Linked DNA regions of Homo sapiens: region 2 is linked to region 1. Evidence: fine-mapped expression QTL. A gene starts in region 1. The other region holds a variant in brackets. All regions are shown on one strand. Distances are from middle to middle.

Region 1 (10,966 bases):
TTGAAAGAACAGAAGAAACTAAGGGAGGCCAGGAGTTCAAGACCAGCCTGGCCAACATGGTGAAACCCCATCTCTACTAAAAATACAAAAAAGTTAGCTGGGCATGGTGGTAGGTGCCTGTAGTCCCAGCTACTCAGGAGTCTGAGGCAGGAGAATTGCTTGAACCCGGGAGGCGGAGGTTTCAGTGAGCTGAGATTGTGCCACTGCACTCCAGCCTGGGCAACAGAGTGAGACTCTGTCTAAAAAAAAAGAAGAAGAAGAAACTAAGGGAGTCTCCTAGCCCAATTCCTCTACCCCTGGAGCATTTGCTTAAGAGTGGCTATGTAATTTCCCCTTTCTTTTTATAGGTAGGGAAGTAGATACAGGCAGACTCCTCAGTAAAACTAGTAACAGAGCACTAACATCCAGTAGACAAGTACCCTATGTATGCTTGATGAATAAGAGCCCCAAGGTGCCTTTTTCCTGTCCAATTCACTTCTCTGGGATACAGTTCCCTTGAGCCATTCCTAATCTGTATTCTGCATAAACTCACCCCTAAATTTGCAGGGCCTCTAGCAGAGCCCTAGGTAATACCACCCTTAATCATTTGGATGGCTCACAGGCATTAGAAAGGGCTCTCCTGTCAGGAGCGGGATCCAAGGTACTGCCTGGGAGGAGCTGAGGGGGTCTTGCCTGACCATCTTCTCCCCTTGGCATCCAGCCTTGAGTCCAGGCAGGATGCAGCGCTTACTAAATCCAGGCATTTCACATGTCTTATCAAATTTAATTCTCACAATAATCCTATGTGTTTTCATTACCTGTATTTCATAGATGAGGAAAAGTGAGGGTTTTTTTTTTTGACAGAGTCTCGCTCTGTCGCCAGGCTGGAGTGCAGTGGTGTGATCTCGGCTCACTGCAACCTCTGCCTCCCGGGTTTAAGCAATTCTCCTGCCTCAGCCTCCTGAGTAGCTGGGACTACAGGTGAATGCTACCACACCCAGCTAATTTTTGTATTTTTAGTAGACACAGGGCTTCACCATTTTGGCTAGGATGGTTTCAATCTCCTGAGCTCGTGATCTGCCCATCTCAGCCTCCCAAAGGGCTGGGATTACAGGCATGAGCCACCACGCCCGGCCAACTGAGGCTTTTTTTTAGAGTGTCTTGCTCTGTTGCCAAGGCTGGAGTGCAGTGGTGTGATCTCGGCTCACTGCAACCTCTGCCTCCTGGGCTCAAGTGATCCTCCACCTCAGACTCCCGAGTAGCTGGGACCATGGTTGCACACCACCATGCCCAGCTAATTTTTAAATTTCTTTGTAGAGATGGGGTCTTACTATGTTACCCAGACTGATCTCAAACTCCTGAGCTCAAGTGATCCTCCTGCCTTGGCCTCTCAAAGTGTTGAGAATACAGGTGTGAGCCACCACGCCTGGCCCTTAACTTTGTTTAAAGTGGGTTTTCCCAAACAAGTGTTTTTGTTTTTTAAGAGTGTCTGGCTATGTTCCCTAGGCTGGAGTGCAGTGGCTATTCACAGGCATGATTATAGCACACTACAGCCTCAAACTTCTGGCCTCAAGTGAGCTTCCTGCCTCAGTTTCCCCAGTAGCTGGGATTACAGGTACCCAACACAGGTGTTTAGTTTTTATAAAGCCAACTATATATTTTCTTTCTTTGTGGTTACTGCCTTAGAAGTTGCACTCAGAGCATCTTCCCTTACCCAATGATTATTCGATACTTATCTATACTTTGTTTTAATAGTATATTTATTCTAGAAATAAATGTATATATAAATTATTAAGTATATTAGTATATTTTTGTAAAAGAAAAATAACTGTGAGTGTATGCATGAAATAATATAGAAGTTTATGTATAAAAATATAAATTATGGGCTGGGCGAGGCGGCTCACGCCTGTAATCTCAGCCCTTTGGGAAGCCGATGCAGGCGGATCACCTAAGGTCTGGAGTTTGAGACCAGCCTGGTTAACATGGTGAAACCCTGTCTCTACTAAAAATTAAAAAAAAAATTAGCCGGGCTTGGTGGCGGGCGCCTATAATCCCAGCTACTCAGGAGACTGAGATAGGAGAATCGCTTGAACCCAGCAGGCAAAGGTTGCAGTGCGCCGAGATTGCGCCATTGCACTCCAGTTTGGGCAACAAGAGTGAAACTTGTCTCAAAAAAAAAAGTAAATTATGATTATCTGGGTGGTAATATTATATTTGACTTCTTTATTTTTCATATTTCCACAATGAATGTAATTATTTCTTAAAAAAACAAAAGTAAAATGGAGTCTCATTATCCAGCCCAAGATATCAATAGCCATGATTCTTGGTGGAAGGGAGTAACCTCCCCCCTACTCCCCACACCCCTCCTACACACCCAGGGGTAAATCTGCAGGTTTGACAAGGCTTAACCACATATGCAATACTGAGTTGTTTTTCAGTCTGGGGATAGGGTGGAATCTTAACAATATCATTTTGTGATGCTACTAACAAAAGAACTTAACAAAATCCTGGCTGATAAAATATTTGTTTAAAAACTTCTGTGACCAAAAACAGTGAAAGCAGGGACTCAAGTGGATATTTGTATACTCATGTTCAGAGCAGCATTATCCACAATACCCAAAAGGTGGAAGCAACCCAGGTGTCCATCAACAGATGAATAAATAAACAGAATGCAGTGTAGACATACAATGGATATCACTCAGCCTTAAAAAGGAGCAAAATTTTGACACATGCTACAATATCCATACCTCTGTGCCCACCTCTTCCAGGCACAGCCCTTGGTCCTTGCTCTATCTCCCCTAAAAACACAGGGAACATTTAGAGGTTTACTTTATGAACGATATTACAGCTGGAAAGGATCCAAACAAGTAAAGGGGCCAACTAGAGATCCTGTGGTGAATTAATGGCACAGCTGGAAGTATCCAACTGTGGCAACATGGATGAACCTTGAAGCGTTACACTAAGTGAAATACACCAGTTACAGAAAGACAAATATTGTATGATTCCACTTAGACGAGGTTCCTAGAGCAGTCAAATTCATAGACAGAAAGTAGAATGGTGGTTGCCAGGGGATGGGAGGAGGAGGGAATGAGGAGTTGGCATTTGGTGGGTACAGAATTTCACTTGAGCTGAGTGTAGTGGCACATGCCTGTAGTCCCAGCTATTCAAGAGGCTGAGGTGGGAGGACTACATGAGCCTAGGAGTTCAAGGCTGCAGTGAGCTATGATCGTACCCCACAGCCTGGGTGACAGAGCAAGACCCTGTCTCTAAAAAAAAAAAAAAAAAAAGAATTTCCGTTGAGAAAGATTAAAAAGTTCTGAAGATGGTGGTGATAGTTGCACAACAATGTGAATGTACTTAATGCCACAGAACTGTACACTTAAAAATGATTAAAATGCTAAATTCTGTTATGTATTTATTACCACAATAAAAACAAAAACCACTGTCCTATGAGAAAATGTCCTAAATCTTTAGCAAGGCATAAGAGATCTATCACAATATGTCCCAACTTATCTGTCATCTCTCTTCATTTTCCACAACTTCCCCTCATTGCTCCTTGAGAAAAGGGACCTTTTTATTCTCGCTTCCATCCTGGCACCTAGAATAGTACCTGACATAGTTATAGGTGGTTTGTTCTGACTGAGTGACTGCTTTAACATTACTAAACATTTTGTTATTCCTCTAGTAATCAGGCACGTACCTTCACACCTTCACATAGGGTCCTTATATGTGAGTTGTTCTTTGAATAGCTATCCCCTCTTCTTCACTCAGCAAACGCCTATTAATTCTTTTTTTTTTTTTTTTTTCCAGTTTTTTTGAGACAGGGTCTCGCTCTGTCGCCCAAGCTGGAGTGCACTGGCATGATCTCGGCTCACTGCTGCGTCTACCTCGCTGGCTCAAGCGATCCTCTGGCCTCAGCCACCACAAGTAGCTGGGACTACAGGCATGTGCCATGATGCACGGCTTATTTATTTTTTTGTCTGAGACACAGTCTCACTCACTCTGTCACCCAGGCTGGAATGCAGTGGTGTGATCTCAGTTCACTGCAACCTCCATCTCCCGGGTTCAAGCGATTCTCCTGCCTCAGCCTCCAGAGTAGCTGGAATTACGGGTGCGCACCACCACACCTGGCTAATTTTTTTGTATTTTTAGTAGCGATGGGGTGGTTTCATCATGTTGGCTAGGCTGGTCTCGAACTCCTGGCCTCAAGGGATCCGCCCACTCGGCCTCCCAACATGCTGGGATTACAGGCGTGAACCACCACATCCGGCCATAATTTCCGTATTTTTTGTAGAGATGAGGTTTGGCCATGTTGCCCAAGCTGGTCTCGAACTCCTGAGCTCAAATGATCCGCCCACTTTGGCCTCCCAGAGTGCTGGAATTACGGGCGTGAGCCACTGTGCCTGACCTTATTAATTCTTTAGGACCCAGAAACATCATCACTTCTGTTGGGTCTTCCTCCAAAGAGATGTCACTTACACCTTCACTCTTTCCTACCATTTTATACAAGACTACAACCTCTATTTAACGCTTCTTATTATTTAAGTACATGTTTTTCCCAACCACTCTGAGTCCTGGGACAACATATCTTTTTCTTTCTGTTCTAGTTTAGAGCTTGGCACATAGTAAAAGTCTTCCTAAATGTTGCACGAACGAGTAAATGATTTTAATTTCCACAAACTCCAGGCTTCCCTGATTGGCCCCTGCCTGTGAACATGAGTCACCAGTTGTTATCTTGAAAGCCTCAGGAACTTCAGACGCAATTCATCCTGGCTACCCAGTGGGTCCAGAAAGGACCCAAGTGCACAAAGGGGCCGGCATCGGCCAATCCTAGGGTGGGGAAAAGTTAGGTATCCATGCCCCTGTGCCCACTTCTTCCAGGCACAGCCCTTGGTTCTTGCTCTAGCTCCCCTAAAGACACAGAAAATATTTAGAAGTTCACTTAACAAAAATATTACAGCTGGAAAGGACCTCAGAGATAACAATGGTAGTCCATCCACTTCATTTTATAGATGAGGAAAGTGAGGCCCAAACAAGTAAAGGAGCCGACTGAAGCGCCCGTGGTGAATTAATGGCACAGTCGGAACTAGAGCCCAGGCCTCTCTCCTCTCTAAAGTCTAAAACATTCTTGGATTTCAGTTTCCTCTTCTGTAAAACGGGGTGAAAATTAGCCTCTCAGGACAGTGGTGAGGAGCAAATGAGATAATGAATGTAAAAGAAATTACTATATTAGCAACAGAAATCAGAGCGGAGCGAGATGGTGTAGAGGAATCTAAGGGGTGTCCGGAGACATGTGTTCCAGTCATGTCATCTCTGTGAACCTCAGTCTCCTCATCTGCAAATGCAGGACCTGGCCCGGCTGACCGCCGAGACCCTTCCAGCTCTGCCGACCCAGGCCCTGAGGCCCTTCCCGGAGGGCCGGACCCTGAGGGAAAAAAACGAAGGAGCCCGTGGGGACCCTCGAGTTACCGTCCTGCAGCAGCGCAGTCTTCTGGGCTGTCCGCAGACTCTCCAACCAGCCCGTCACCGCCATCTTTCCCCTGCTAAGCAGCACGCCCAGCCGCTGCCATGGCAACCGTTCCAGAGGGTCACTTCCGGCTGACTCGGAAGCTATTCTGGCCATTTGCCCTCCTTCCCCCCTTCGTCCGCTCTCATTGGCTCTGCTGGTAAGTGGTCTATTCCTGCCCACCCCCGGGTGACTAGCTTGGCCAGTAGTCGACCCCACCCGGGGACCGACTCTGGGGGTTGGAGAGACTCTTGGGGCCGGGGTCGGGCACTCCAGCTTTCTTCTAGCCCCGAGCTGGGATTCCCTGGCCTGCGCCAGCTGCGTACACGGCGAGTACACCGCACCTGCCCGGGACTTCACCCGCAGCTGCGAGACTCCTCCATTCCCGGAGGGCTCCCCACACCTGCTGCGGCCGTGCCCCATCTCCCCGCAGCTGCGGCGCTGAGCACCCCCATGTCGAGAGGCTGAGACCAGGACAGGTGCAGGGCGTTCCCACTCACCCCCGAAAGTCCTCCTCCTTCCTCTGCGAGTCTGTGTTGGAGGTAGAGAAATAGTATGTGGGGTTTATGTGCAGGTCCTCCCCAGGCTCCGCTCCATCCCCTAAAGCTCCATTTCCTAGCCCAGCATCCCATTTGGTAAAGCCCTTCGAAGTGGGCCGCAGCAGGGCTGTGCTGAATCTTTAGCGCAACCCCTCTGAGGAATGGTGTCGTTTCCTACTCCTCAAAAGTACCCCCGATGGCACCAGCCTTCCCCTCATTTCCCGTAATACTCCAACTTCGAAAGGCTGGGGAGTGTGAAGCTAGGCTAAACCACTGAAGTTTAACCGGGTTTGAAGAGACCCCCTCCCCCGACCCGCTTCCCCAAACTGGGCTGCTACCCCCAAAGCCTGGTCAGGAAAGACCCTACCTCCATAGGCAAAGGGGTTGGAGGGCCTCAATTCTGGATTTCCACGTGCAGCAGCCCTGACCAACGCTCCAATAGGCCGGGATCCAGCCATACTTCAATGGATCCCAGGGGTATCTTGAAGGCATTTCCCAAGCGGCAGAAAATTCATGCTGATGCATCATCAAAAGTACTTGCAAAGATTCCTAGGAGGGAAGAGGGAGAAGAAGCAGAAGGTGAGCTGACCCAGTCTCAGAACCCTCGTGTGCTTGAACCCACAGCCTTCATGTGCTTCAGCCCTACGTTGTTTATGTCCAGAATCAGATATTGGAGCTGACTCTGCCTGTCCAGGGCCTGCAGGTCTGTTTGTATCTACCTTGTGCTAAGCTTGGTCCTGGGTCTTGGACAGGCTATTTGCTGTGTTACCTTCTTTTCTACCCGAAGACCTCTATCCATCAGAAAAGACTCCCTGGGCCCTCAGGGAATGACCAGTATAATTTTTGCCCTGAGGACTGGGACAGAAACCCCCCTCCATTACCCAGGCTTGTTGTTAGTTGTTTTGCAGCCAAATTGGCAAATAAATGGCAGAGGCTTTGGAGGCAGGGTTGTCGGGTCTGTCAGACTGTAAGGGCAAGAAACGCGCTTTGTTGAAAGAATAAATGATAAAGGATTCAAAGTATGGAGAGAGGCTGGGCGCGGTGGCTCTTGCCTGTAATCTCAGCACTTTGGGAGGCCGAGGCAGGCAGATCACCTGTGCTCAGGAGTTCGAGACCAGCTTGGGCAACATGGCGAAACCCTGTCTCTACTAAAAATACAAAAAATTAGCCAGGCATGGTGGCACACGCCGGTAATCCCAGCTACTCGGGAGGCTGAGGCATGAGAATCGCTTGAACTCGGGAGATGGAGGTTGCAGTGAGCCAAGACGATGCCACTGTACTCCAGCCTGGGCGACAGAGTGAGACTGTCTCCAAACAAAAACAAAACAAAAGAAAACAAAACAAACAAACAAAAAACAAAGTAAGAAGGGAGGAGGCATTCATTAAACAAATATTTACAGGTTACTTACAATGTGCCAGACACTTCTAGATTGCACCAAGGAACAGGACGTATGAAAATCCTTGTCCCTTACATTCAAGTGCTGGCCTGTGAGAAAATTTGCTATATGTAGAAGGAAAGCTGTCTGGATGGAAGGGAAATGCTTATTTTCAGGGTAGGGGACTGTGAACACGTCATTCAGATCATGTTAGAAGTTATGTCGTGGCCAGGGGGTGGCAGATAAAAATTAAAAAGTTACAACAGTAGTCATCTGGATGTTCCTTCCACAGAGTGGCTGAGCTCCCTTCGGGCCCATGTTGTGCGCACTGGCATTGGACGAGCCCGGGCAGAACTCTTTGAGAAGCAGATTGTTCAGCATGGCGGCCAGCTATGCCCTGCCCAGGGCCCAGGTGTCACTCACATTGTGGTGGATGAAGGCATGGACTATGAGCGAGCCCTCCGCCTTCTCAGACTACCCCAGCTGCCCCCGGGTGCTCAGCTGGTGAAGTCAGCCTGGCTGAGCTTGTGCCTTCAGGAGAGGAGGCTGGTGGATGTAGCTGGATTCAGCATCTTCATCCCCAGTAGGTGGGCTGATCCCAGTCTTTTTTTCAAATGTTTTCTAGTAGCATCTTGAGCTCTTTTCTTGAATTATTAAAAATAACTATCATTAATTAAAAAATTAGCCAGGCATGGTGGGGTGTGCCTGTAGTCCCAGCTATAAGAGGTTTAGGTGGGAGGATTGATTGAGCCAGGGAGGTTAAGGCTGCAGTGAGCCTTGATCGTACCACTGTACTCCAGCCTGGGTGACAGAGCAAGACCCTGTCTCAAGAGAAACTCCAAAAACCTCAAAAAACTCGTTTTCTTAATTGGACACACTGGGAAACCAAGTATTTCAGAGTACAGAAGGACTGGGGACAGATACAGGGTGAGACCTTTGGTGTCTTAACCTCCCATCACCATCCCCACAGGTACTTGGACCATCCACAGCCCAGCAAGGCAGAGCAGGATGCTTCTATTCCTCCTGGCACCCATGAGGCCCTGCTTCAGACAGCCCTTTCTCCTCCTCCTCCTCCCACCAGGCCTGTGTCTCCTCCCCAAAAGGCAAAAGAGGCACCAAACACCCAAGCCCAGGTCAGGAGCCTCCCATCCCTCAGAACTCCCTTCCCCTAGGAAGCAGATCACAGAAATGGGGTGGGCCTGGTGGCTGTTCAGAAAGTCCCAGGCCCCTGAGAGAGGAGGGCTCTATTGTGAAGCCATTTAGCTCTTCCCAACACTCATCACTGCTGCATTTATCTAGGCCATATCTAACACATACCACTGGGGATCCTAGGGCTAGGCACTGCGTGGAGCCAAAGGGAACGTGGCCTCACACCCAAGGAGATCCAAGTCTGATGCAGAAGGCCCCGCCTCATTCTTAGGTCTGACTAGAAGACCCTCCCCCCGCACAAAGAAGATGACCCCCACCTTTAAGGATCCCTTCTCTTGGAGAACAAGAATTTATTGTTTTCTTTTCTTCTCTATCCCAAGCCCATCTCTGATGATGAAGCCAGTGATGGGGAAGAAACCCAGGTTAGTGCAGCTGATCTGGAAGCCCTCATCAGTGGCCACTACCCCACCTCCCTTGAGGGAGATTGTGAGCCTAGCCCAGCCCCTGCTGTCCTGGATAAGTGGGTCTGTGCACAGCCCTCAAGCCAGAAGGCGACCAATCACAACCTCCATATCACAGAGAAGCTGGAAGTTCTGGCCAAAGCCTACAGTGTTCAGGGAGACAAGTGGAGGGCCCTGGGCTATGCCAAGGCCATCAATGCCCTCAAGAGCTTCCATAAGCCTGTCACCTCGTACCAGGTACCCAGGGGCTAGAGTGGGAGGAGGGGTCTTTACTGGCCAGTGGTTAGTAACCCCAGTGGGGTTCAGGTACAGTGGTGAAGATTTTATGGGGTCTAGGACTTGCACAAAAGAAAAAAAAGGAAAATTGATGAAAGCAGATTGGCAAAATCTTGATAGTTGTTGAAGCTGGGAGATGTACGATACTTGGGGGTTATATGGATCTCTCTACTTTTGAATTTTTTAACATAATTAAAAGTTTTTTATTTTTAATTTTGTTTATTTATTTATTTATTCATTTATTTAGCAGAGATGGTGTTTTGCCGTGTTACCCAGGCTGGTCTTGAACTCCTGGGCTCAAGCAATCTACCCTCGGCTCAGCCCTGCAAAGTGCTGGGATTACAGCCATGAGCCCTTGTGTCCCGCCTAAAAAGTTGTTTAAAAGAAGTTTGGACTCTGAAGCCTAACAGACCAGGGTTTGAACTCTGGTTCCTGTCATTCACTAACTGTGTGACTCCAGACAAGTTACTTAAACTCTCAAAGCATCAGTTTTCTCATTAGTAAAAAGGGGCTACTATTAAATGAAATGGTCCCTGTAGCACAGGACCTGACATAGAGTAAGCCCTCAGTAAATGTTAGCTCTTGCTGTTGGAATGATGATGATGGTGGTGGTGGTGGTGGTGACTAATATCATCATTATTTTCTACTTCTTACTGCTGGTCTCCATCCTTCTGGGAACCAAAAGACAAATTACCCAGCCCTCATTCTATCCAAAATTCTCATCTTCAACTACACCCAAGCTTTACACAGCCACACAGTTGCCAAGCAGCCAGGCTGGCTTTTATGTCAGCATCTGCTAGAGGAGTCAGCTTCCTTTCCACTGGCTCTACCTCTTCCATCTCCTCACTCTTCTTTCTTGCCTCTGCCTCCTCCTCCTCTAGGAGGCCTGCAGTATCCCTGGGATTGGGAAGCGGATGGCTGAGAAAATCATAGAGATCCTGGAGAGCGGGCATTTGCGGAAGCTGGACCATATCAGTGAGAGCGTGCCTGTCTTGGAGCTCTTCTCCAACATCTGGGGAGCTGGGACCAAGACTGCCCAGATGTGGTACCAACAGGTCACACCCTGGCTCAGCCCCTACTTCAGTTTTGCTGTGTCTCAGAGTTCCTGCCCCAGATGTGTGCTGTGCTCTGCCCCAGATCCCTATGCTGTGCTCTGATGGGAATGCACCCACAGTATAGGGAGACCATTTTTCAAGCGGACCAGGACTCATATAGACCCCTCAGCTCCCAGAACAGCCTTGTTGCTTGGTATCCTTAAGAAGGAGTAGACAGGGACAAGAAGTATGTTTCTCAGTCTCCCCAGACCAGCAAGGGCCTTCCTGAGGAGGCCAGGCCTTGACACTGCGTGTCTAGAGCAGTGGTTCCCAATCCTGGCTCTGCCCACAATCACCAGGGCAGCTTGGTAAGGATGAAGATGACAAGGTCCATCCTCAGACTGATGGAATCATGAACGAGCATCTTAGGATAGTGGCAGGGCTGGATGATGGCATGTTTCCCATGCTCCCTGCCTTTCCCAAGTCCTGCTGAGTACAGACCCAACTGCCCCTAGGTTGGTCCTGCCTCTAGCCTTCCCTAGAGTCTGGGGCGATGGAAGCCTTGTGTGTGTGCTCACTCATGCCTCTTCATTGGTCCTGGATCCTTACAGCTTCCCATCTGGCTGCTTTTTTCCAGGGCTTCCGA
Region 2 (10,966 bases), 940 kb before region 1:
TTATTCTTTTAGAGATAAAGTCTCACTCTGTTGCCCAGGCTGGAGTGCAGTGGCATGATCGTGACTCACTGCTGCCTCAGCCTTCCAGGCTCAAGTGATCCTCCTGCCTCAGTCTCCTGAGTAGCTGGGACTACATGTGTGCACCACTACACCTGATTACATTTTTTTTTTTTTTTTTTTTTTGGTAGAAATGGGTTATGGGGTATTGCTATGTTGCCTGGACTGGTCTCAAACTTCTGGGCTCAAGCAATCCTCCTGACTCAGCCTCCCAAAGCGCTGGGACTACAGGTGTGAACCACCATGCACAGCCAAGAAACTACAATTTTCTTGATAATTACTATTATCATTTATTACAAAACCAGGAAAACCATATATAGTCCTCTATTTGACCACTGCTTTCTTGTTGGACATAAGGTTGCTTCCAAAGCTATGCCTTGGAAAATATTTTTGTGCATATTACCTCGTTTCCTTCCCATATTTGGGTTATTTCCTTGGGATTAAGAGTCACAGAAGGCCAGACATGGTGGCTCACACCTGTAATCCCAGTACTTTGGGAGGCCGAGGCAGTAGGATTGCTTTAGCCCAGGAGTTCAAGACCAGTCTGGGCAACATAGTGAGACCCCATCTCTATAAAAAATTTAAAAATTAACCAAGCATGGTGGCACAAACTTGAAGTCCTATCTACTCAAGAGGCTGAGGCATGAGGACCACTTGAGCCCAGGAGTTTGAGGCTGTAGTGAGCTATGACTGTGCCACTGCACTCAGGCTGGGCAACAGAGTGAGTCCCTGTCTCCATTAAAAAAAAAAAAAAAAAAAAAGATTTAAAATAGTGGACAAAGGTAAAGAGAAACTAAATGCCAGCCCAAGGTTATGGGCTGAAGGACTTAGGCAGAGTGTTGAGCCTGGCTTAGAGACAGGGAAGTTGGGAAGTGAGGAAGGCAGGTGTCAGACATTCTTAGTCTCACGATCTTTGGACCCTTTGGAGGTCTCTGGGTGGACTTAGGTGGAAACTGCATGAAATTATTAACATATTACTCCAGCATCCCAATAAGATGCCAGAGAGGAGCCCAGCAAAGTGGACGAGAATACACGCTGTGGAAGCAACTGAGCCCATCAAACCCCAGCTCCACCTTTCTCTAGCTGACTGGTGGGCAAGTTAACTTCCATGTGTGCAAGGCTCCTCATCTGTAAAACTGGGAGAAGAACACTCATCTCATAGGGTGGGAGGTTTTAGTGTGACAGCACAGTGTCTGGCACCTAGCAAGTGCCCTTCCACGGCAGTTAGTGTGCAACTTTCCTTTTTCTTTTCTTTTTTTTTTTTTGAGACGGAGTCTCACTCTGTCGCTAGGCTGGAGTGCAGTGGCGCGATCTCGGCTCACTGCAACCTCTGCCTCCCGGGTTCAAGCGATTCTCCTGCCTCAGCCTCCCGAGTAGCTGGGACTATAGGTGCATGCCACCATGCCCAGCTAATTTTTGTATTTTTAGTAGAGATGGGGTTTCACCATGTTGGCCAGGATGGTCTTGATCTCTTGATCTTGTGATCTGCCCGCCTTGGCCTCCCGGCTAATATTTGTATTTTTAGTAGAGATGGGGTTTTAGTAGAGATAAAGTCTCACTCTGTTGCCCAGGCTGGAGTGCAGTGGCATGATCATGGCTCACTGCTGCCTCAGCCTTCCATATTGGCCAGGCTGGTCTCGAACTCCTGACCTCGTGATCCACCCGCCTAGGCCTCCCAAAGTGCTGCGATTACAGGCGTGAGCCACTGAGCCTGGCTGCAACTTTCCTTTTCTTAGTACTCACTCAAAGCAAACTCTGCTCATCATTTATCCTTTAAAATATCAGCAGATGCCTCCAGCTTCCCTAACTTCTGGGCTCTGGATCTTAATCAGCCCAGTCCTTCAAAAGCTGCTTTCAGCTTCACCCAATTTCCTGACCTTGGGTCCCTCCCAGAACCTTCTAACCAGACCTGAGATTTCCTTTGTGAGATGCTTTGAGTCACAGCCATTACAACAGAATTCAGTCAACAACTACTAAATAAACAACTGCAGAGATTATTTTTTATTTATAATTCAAAATTACTGATACTTTATTAGACATTTGAAAATGGTGTTGGGTGACAACACAAATACTACTGTATGTAGCAAAACTTTGTAAAAATAACTTTTGAAATATGTTTATATGATAATATTCTGATATAGCTAAGCTTTTAAGCCTCCAGTTATAAAAACAAAATAATAGAAAAAAAACCCATAAATCTCGTTATATTTAATCAATTTTATATAATCTTAAAAAAAAAAAAAAAAAGAAAGGAAAAAAGCCACATCAGCGAAGACTGCACTCTCATACTCTGACCTGGGAGTCCAATAAGGCTACAGTGCAGCAGCCACCTTTGAGTTGCAACTCTGGGTTATAGAAGCTTTCTTTGCGCTATACCCCAACCAACCAGATTCATGGAATGCATTTGCCCCACTCAAGTAGATGGTTCCTGAGACATTTTGCTGGGAGCCAAAGACCATGTTCCCACAGCATTCCTCAAGTTCAAAAACAGTGGCTCCCAGCACTGATTCGGCTGAGAATCCAGTCAAATAAACTCTTCCGGCTCCCAACACTTCAGGCAGCTTAACTCTGTCCTGGGCTTTCAGTGAGCAAAGGGTTTCCTGGAATAAGACACTGAATTTTATTTTTATTTATTTTTTGAGACAGGGTCTCACTCTGTTGCCCAAGCTAGAGTGTAGTGCCGTGATCACAGCTCACTACAGCCTTGATCTCCTGGGCTCAAGTAATCCTCCCACCTCAGCCACTGAGTAGCTGAGACTACAGACACATGCCACCATGCCTGGCTAATTTTTTTTATTATTTGTAGAAATGAGGCCTCACTATGTTGCCCAGGCTGGTCTTGAACTCCTGGGCTCAAGCAGTTCTCCTACCTCGGCCTCCCAAAGTGTTAGGATTACAGGTGTGAGCCATTGTACCAGCCAAGATACTGAATTTTAGAAATTCTAAGCCAAGGGCACCAGACCCTTTCTTGCAGGGTGGTAAAAGCTCACATTCAACCATCCCCTGCTGGACATCTGTTGCACCTTCTTCCATCTACTCCCAACCACCCCCAAACTCAAAGGTCAGCCAGCCCCCAGGGGACTCCTAAGCCAGCCTGGAGCGCTACAGGAATTCTGGGCCAAGGAAGAAGCCCAGTGCTTGGGTTTCTTGGCATCAATATGGTAGCTCCCACTCTTGGCTTTGGCTTAAAGCAACACCTTTACAAAGGTCTTCTTAAAAATAAAAAAAGACAGGCTAGGCCAATGGCGACAAGATCACAGTCTGATTTGGGAAGCGAGGTGCCCTCTGTGCCTAAGTATGCAGCTTGGGGACTTCTTACTGACCCAAGAGGCAAGGCATCTACCCAAGGGCCTTTTGTCCACCCACTCTCCTCCAGAACTCTGGGAAGCCAGCCATCCCAGAAGATCAAGAAACCTAAACAGGGCAATGGGAAGAAACAAATCTTTTTGGCATTTCAGTTCCCCAAGGGCAAGGACTGTACTTTTTGTGTGTTCTGTACATGAATACATCATGTCATGGCTGAGCAATGCTAAATGGTAATAATATTCCCACTGCCACCCAAAGAGATAATCAAGCCGAGACATTCAACAAGATAAGATGGTATTAAAAAGCAATGTGCCTCCCTCTTAGTCACTATCAAAGTAGATTCAAATATCTTCATGGCTTTGAATGTCATGATGTACTATAAATATACATATATATATATATATCTTAATGGTATTTCCTTTGAGCCACTTTTGCTACTATTTCCTTTTTGGGGAAATAAAACCGTCACTCAACTCAGTTCTCCTGTCTTCATACTAAAGCTGAGGTCCCACACTGGAATGCTTCCTAAAACCCCACTCCAGCCTCCATCATATCATCCTTTTTCTTTCCTCATCAGTCAACAAATAATTTATTGAATGTCGGCCGGGCGCGGTGGCTCACGCCTGTAATCCCAGCACTCTGGGAGGCCAAGGTGGGCGGATCACAAGGTCAGGAGATCGAGACCATCCTGGCTAACACGGTGAAACCCTGTCTCTACTAAAAATACAAAAAGTTAGCCAGGCGTGGTGGTGGGTGCCTGTGGTCCCAGCTACTTGGGAGGCTGAGGCAGGAGAATGGCATGACACCAGAAGGCGGAGCTTGCAGTGAGCTGAGATCGCACCACTGCCACTGCACTCCAGCCTGGGCGACAGAGCGAGACTCCATCTCAAAAAAAAAAAAAAAAAAAAACAATAATAATAATTATAATTTATTGAATGTCACATTCTTTACATTGTCTTCAAACTCTGCAACCTCATCTTGTTCCACTGTTCTCTCTTACCAAGCCTCAGATGCACTGGCCTTCTTTCTTTTCCTTAAACACTTCGAGGTCCGTGCTGCCCTCAGGGCCTTTATACTAGCTGTTTCACTGCCTAGGACCTTCATCAGGACTCCCAGCATTGTACAACTCCAGGGGGCAGCAATTGCACAGAATAATGTGAACGGTGGCCCTAGAGTTGTACAATGTGACAGCCCTGGCTGCCACCGGTCTTTGAGGTCTCAGTTCAAATCTTCAAGGAAGCCATCACTGATTACTGCTAACAGCATCCTCCCCACCCACCTCAACCACTACTTCTACCCATGTAAGCTCCAGAGTACCATCCCTGCTTTTTTAATTTTATTTATTTTTTTAAGACAGGGTCTCACTCTGTCACCTAGGCTGGAGTGCAGTGGCACGATCTTGGCTCACTGCAGCCTCTGCCTCCTGGGCTCAAGCGATCCTCCCACCTCAGCCTCCCAAGTAGCTGGGACTACAGGCACGCACCACCATGCCTGACTAATTTTTGTATTTTTTGTAGAGATGGGGTTTCACCACATTGCCCAGGCTGCTCTCGAACTCCTGGCTCAAGTGATCCACCCCCCCGTGGCCTCCCAAAGTGCTGGGATTAGAGGCATGAGTCACCACACTTGGCGCCCTGCTTTACTTTCATTTTTTTAAGAGACAGGGTCTCCCCATGTTGCCCAGGCTGGCGTGCAGTGGCTATTCACAGGCACAATCCCACTACTGATCAGCACAGGAGTTTTGACCTACTGGGCCAGGTCACCCCTCCTTAGGCAACCTGGTGGTCCCATGCTCCTGGGAGGTCACCATATTGATGCTGAACTTAGTGTGGACA[C/T]CTGACTGGCATAGTGCATAATAGCCCAGAACTCCTGAGCTCAAGTGATCCTCCCACCTCAGCCTCCTGAGTAGCTGGGGCCCTGCTTTATTTTCAACACAGCACTTGTACTATCTAAAACTATATAAAATTTTTCATGTTTCTCCAATAAGAATATAAGATTCATGAGAGCAGAAACCTTGCCTGCTTTGCTTTCCATGGTATCCTCAGCACTAAGAAAGCACTGGATATTTAGGTAATGTGCTCTAAAAATTTATGAAAATAGGCCAGGTGCAGTGGCTCATGCATGTAATCCTAGCACTTTGGGACACCGAGGCAGGTGGATCACCTGAGGTCAGGAGTTCAAGACCAGCCTGGCCAACATGGCAAAACCCCATCTTTACTAAAAATACAAGAAACTAGTTGGGCATGGTACTGCGTGCCTGTAATCCCAGCTACTCAGGAGACTGAGGCAGGAGAATCGCTGGAACCTAGGAGGCAGAGGTTGCAGTGAACTGAGATCGCAAGATCGCACCACTACACTCCAGCCTGGGCGACAGAGCAAGGGTCCATCTCAAACCAAACAAAAAAAGAAAATAAATTAAGTGCTTGACACATACTAAGCACTGTGCCAGTTGCTGGGATGGAGGTACTCCCTCACCTCATAAAGCAAGGTTCAGGCCAGATACGGTGGCTCATGCTTATAATCTCAGCACTTTGGGAGGCTGATGTGGGCAGATCACTTAAGGCCGGGAGTTTGAGGCCAGCCTGGCCAACATGGCAAAACCCCATCTCTACTAAAAATACAAAAATTAGCCAGGCGTGGTAGCGTGCCCTGTAATCCCAGCTACTTGGGAGGCTGAGGCAGGAGGATCACTTGAACCCAGGAGGTGGAGGTTGCAGTGAGCCGAGATTACACTACCGCACTCCAGCCTGGGCGACAGAGAGAGACTCCGTCTCAAAAATAAAAAATAAAATAAAATAAAATAAAATAAAGCAAGGTTCAGACAATTTTTCCAAAATCACATACCTCCTCCCACAGAAGGGTTCTGACTCCTATGAAAATGCCCTTGGAATGTCTCCTCTCCTATGGGAATAAGGGTCCAAACTGAAGAAGTGCTCTTGAATGAGCTAAAAGCTCGGGCTTGGTGCTGGGCCAGGAGAATTCTCCGTCTCCAGTGGTGAGAATATTTTTCCAACAGTCGGAAAAACCCCAAAGCAAGAGCTTCCTCCATTTTATTCATTTGTTCAACAAATATTTACTGATGTACTGGAGAAACATTAATGGATAAAGCACATTTCCATCCTTATCTTCAGGGAGCTTATGTTCTAGTGGGAAGGAGGGGGGACAGACAATAAACAAGACAAATAAGTAAGTAAGTAAAATAAGCTAGATGGTAATTTAAAAAAAAATTTCTTAAAGCATAATAGACATCGCAGAAGTGATAAGTGTTTTAAAGAAGAAATAGGCTGGGCACGGTGGCTCACGCCTGTAATCCCAGAACTTTGGGAGGCTGAGGCAGGCAGATCACTTGAGGAGTTTGAGACCAGCCTGGCCAACATGGTGAAACCCCGTCTCTACAAAAAATATAAAAATTAGCCAGGTGTGGTGGCACGTGCCTGTAGTCCCAGCTACTTGGGAGGGTGAGGCAGGAGAATCGCTTGATCCCAGGAGGCGGAGGTTACAGTGAGCCGAGATTGCACCACTGCACTCCAGCCTGGGCAACAGAGCTAGACTTCATCTCAAAAAAAAAAAAAAGAAAAGAAAAGAAAAAGAAAAATTAGGCTGGGTGCGGTGGCTCATGTCTGTAATCTCAGCACTTTAGGAGGCAAGACAGAAGGATCGCTTGAGTCCAGGAGTCCGAGACCAGCCTGGGTAACATAGTGAGACCCTGACTATACAAATATATATAACTTTTTAAAAAGAAGAATTAGGCAGGAAAGGGGGATACTGCTTTGTGGGAGGAGGGTGCAGGATTTCCTTTTTAAATAAGGAGGTCAGGGAAGGCCTAACTGAGAGAAGTTATTTGCGAAAGGGTCTAAGGAAGTGAGGTAAGGTATGAAGCTATCTGCAGGCAGAACTTTGCAGGCATAGGGAGAGTAAGTGCAAAGGCCCTGAGGTAGAAGAATGCCTGGCACTTCAGAGGAAAAGCAAGGGGGGCAGAATAGGAAGAGCAGAGCAGTCAGAGAGAAGGCCGATTGAAGTAGAGTACAAAGGACCTTAAAGGTGATGGCCTTTGGCCTTTACTCAAGTGAGACATGAAGCCACTGGATGGTTCTGAGCATGATTCATGAGATGAGTGTCCACTGGCCCTGGCTAAAGAAGGTCTAACTCCGAAGGCTCCCTGCTCAGCGACCATCTTCCTTCTGGGCCTTTTATCTACACAAAACCACTGGTTACAGGAATGAGAAATTGGCAGCTTGGCTCCAGGAGGGTGGGAATTCAGCATGTCTGCAACCTGATATATGGGAAAAGCTAGAACAGGAAGACGAGAGGGTTAGGGCAAGCCATGGTGTTGCCTGTAGGTTTTCACTACATTTTTCCTCTAACCAACCAAGCTTTGTCAGAAGCCTTGAAGAGTCAAATCCATCACAGGCCAAAAGCACAGCCAGCCAGCTCGACCCCCCTGGGACTGGTAGCCTGGGCCAAGTCCCATTCTCTAGCAGTTACTCTTCCCTACAGCCATGGCCGTGGGCAGCCTGACATCATGTTGAAAGGCCTGAGGTCAGAGTAAGAGAAACTGGTGGTCGGAGGCAGGGCTCCAAGAGGCCCCAGGTATCACATGAGGGTTAGTACTAGAAAAACAAGACATCTCTTTGATTGGCCTTCCTGTGGCTAAGCTGATTCTATGACCAGGGACTCCAAGAGACTGAGTAACATAGGAGTAGGAAGGAAAGGGATCTGTGAGGGCCACTATCTTTTACTAACATGCTAGGGGCCTGGAGTCCAGTGAACCATACCTCTCTGAGAAGCTGCTGTGAAGCTATGATCTCGCTGACAAATGGACAACTGTCTCAGCCTCAAACTCAGGCCTGGTCACATCATTTCTGAGCCTCAGGACTCCTGCTTGCCAAGAGCCCTCCACTAGGCCTCAAGCCATGGACTGCTGAAGAGGAGACAAAGAGGCACCAGGTGATAACCTAAGGCTGTGAAACTGTATCAGGCCCACCTCCCCACAATGTCTTCTAGCTCAAGGACCCTTCAGCCCAATGAGGACCAGGACCAGGTTTATGTTGCTTGTTACTACAAGCCTCATGCCCAGAACTGTGTCCCAACGATGACAATCTACGGAGCAGATTAACGTCTGGCCTTCCAAAGAAGAGAGGACAGCGATCAACGCTGGATGGGAACTAAGTGTGTCTGCTTACCCACAACCCAGTGCTAGGAAAGGACAGTGGGCCACTCCTTCTCTAGATCTCTAGATCTAGTCCTGCTGCAAACATACAGTAGTATTAAGTTATCTGACTTCCTGTGTGACAGAAGCCCTAAATGGTAGCCCATTTGTTTCAGGCAATTACCTGAAAAGGAGCTCTAGGCATTTGTGCTTATGCCTGTGAACCTTCTGTGTCCCTCGAGTACAAGGACCCTGGGGCACTCTGTAAGCCAATCTCAGTCTTCTGTACCACGCACCCAAGAAAGAGAGAAAGGAGGAGGCGTGTGGTATTTATTCCAGGTGACACTGATCACCAAATCTTGACTGTTCTAAGGGGAAAATAACAATAAAAGCAACAACTGGAAGAACACAACCCCTCAGGACAGCTACCACCATTTGTGATAGTAAAGCTGTGATCTGAGAAGTAGGCAAACAGCACAGTTCATACATATACTACCTAAACCACTCTTCACTGCTGTGAGACGTCAAGGAGGAAAAATGGGAATATCGTTAATGTAACATGGCAGTGGGTAAGAGCTATCTTCCCAAGCAAATGTGCTGTTTTCAGAATCTAGAAACCCTAGCAACAGTGGGCAAGCTGAATTCAGACAACAGCGTTAAGCAGGTAGCAGGGAAGCCTCAGAAGATGTTAAGTCCTCACTAAGAAGATGAGATGCACGCAAAGCAAAAGCCCTGTGCACAACTGGGACAGCGTCACTCCCAGTTATTTATAGAATCATTTACAGAAATCATCATAAGAACAGACATAGAATTGTAAACAAAAGGTGATAGGATTATCAGTAATTGTTTTCTCCCATTTCTAATTCCCAACATTTTTAGTAAAATGGTTCAACTGTTTTTATAAGTGAAAAAAAGCAAAATTACAACTAAGACATTGGATAACAATAACGAATTTAACAGCAAAAGGCCAGGCCAGGAAAGTTTTAGACTTTGTCTTCTTGATGCTGGTTCAACTATGAGAGTTTGAGATCTGGTTGGGGCTTCAAAGGAGCATGGTATATGCATTTCTCATCAAAGGCAAGGTTAAGCCCAATAGGGTATGGAATGGACAAATCTGCATACCAGTCTCTCTACAGTCTGTACTGGAGGGCAGAATCAATCTCAAACCTTAGGATTGAGGTTGCAAATCTCAGTAGCAGCTACACTTTATGGAAGACACCATCATTGGAGAATATAAGGTGGAGAACTCATGAGCCAGCCCCAGTTAAAACCAACAGCAACTTAGGAATTCAGAGGTAGGCCCAGCACCTACTCAGCGGATCTAACTCATTTAACGGCTTGAGAAGTGACCAAAAGAAAAATATGCCAGAAAGCATAATTAGCCCCATGGTCTGAACCCATGATGTGAGAAAAAGGTATGTATGGGCAGAGGTAGAATGGGGAGTGGCTGGAGGTTAGGAAGAAAAACAAAGATATGTCACCAAAGAAGATATACAGATGACAGACAAGCATATGAAAAGACGCTCAACAGCATATGTCATGAGAGAACTGCAAATTAAAACAATTAGATACCACTCCACACCTATTGGAATGGCTAAAATCCAAAAAACAGACAATACCAAATGCTGGTGAGGACATGAAACAATAGGAACTCTCATTCATTGCTAGTGGGAATGAAAAATGGTATAGCCACTATGGAAAATGGTTTGGCAGCTTCTCATAAAGCTAAACATAGTCTTAACATACGATCTAGCATTACATTCCTAGGGATTTACCCAGATGAGTTGAAAACGTATGTCCACACAAAAACCTGTATACAAATGTTTATAGAAGCTTAATTAAAAATCGCCAAAAAATACTGGAAGCAATCAAGATATTTTTCAAAAGGTGAAAGAATAAACTGTGGTACATAACAAACAATGGAATAGTATCAAGTGATAAAAAGAAAGGAGCTATCAAGTCACCAAAAGGCACGGCGGAATCTTAACTGTATATTACTCAGTGAAAGAAGCTAGTCTGCAAAAGTTACATACTATTTGATTCCAACTCTATGACCTTTTGGAAAAGGCAAAAACTACAGAGATAGTAAAAAAAACCAAACAGTTGTTGCCAGGGGTTTCGGGGGAGGGAGGAATGAACAGGTGGAGCACAAGGAATTTTTAGAGCAGTGAAACTAGTTTGTATGGTGCTGTGATGGTATATACATGACATGCATTTGTCAAAACCCAAGAACTGGCCAGGCACGGTGGCTCACGCCTGTAATCCCAGCACTTTGGGAGGCCGAGGTGGTTGGATCACCTGAGGTCAGGAGTTCGAGACCAGCCTGGCCAACATGGTAGAACCCCATCTCTACTAAACATACAAAAAAATTAGCCGGGCGTGGTGGCGGGTGCCTGTAGTCCCAGCTACTCAGGAGGCTGAGGCAGGAGAATCACTTGAACCCAGGAGGCGGAG

Direction of the effects. Positions count from the first base shown, and alleles are read on the strand shown. Sizes are in standard deviations (SD) of each study's normalised expression.
For the expression in tibial artery of the gene that starts at base 5,592 in region 1, T is the low allele of the variant in region 2 and C is the other (moderate effect, 0.52 SD a copy in GTEx).

What was found.
Region 2: its variant is fine-mapped to the expression of POLL in tibial artery (GTEx, PIP above 0.99).

What each region holds. Positions count from the first base shown.
Region 1 is chr10:101,582,883-101,593,848 of GRCh38, reverse strand. It overlaps POLL (DNA polymerase lambda), which reads left to right and starts at 5,592. Exons shown (of 9, transcript NM_001174084.2): 1 at 5,592-6,027; 2 at 6,443-6,603; 3 at 7,693-7,987; 4 at 8,371-8,533; 5 at 8,930-9,247; 6 at 10,168-10,341; 7 at 10,958-10,966. The coding sequence starts at 6,489. DPCD (deleted in primary ciliary dyskinesia homolog (mouse)) reads right to left here and starts at 5,528. Exons shown (of 6, transcript NM_015448.3): 1 at 5,449-5,528. The coding sequence starts at 5,512. RefSeq lists enhancers at 5,243-5,572, 5,673-5,952.
Region 2 is chr10:102,520,300-102,531,265 of GRCh38, reverse strand. All of the region lies in intron 2 of SUFU (SUFU negative regulator of hedgehog signaling), which reads right to left. Among named protein-coding and RNA genes, the nearest start is that of SUFU, 22 kb to the right of the region's middle. The variant C/T (reference allele first, on the strand shown) is at 5,199.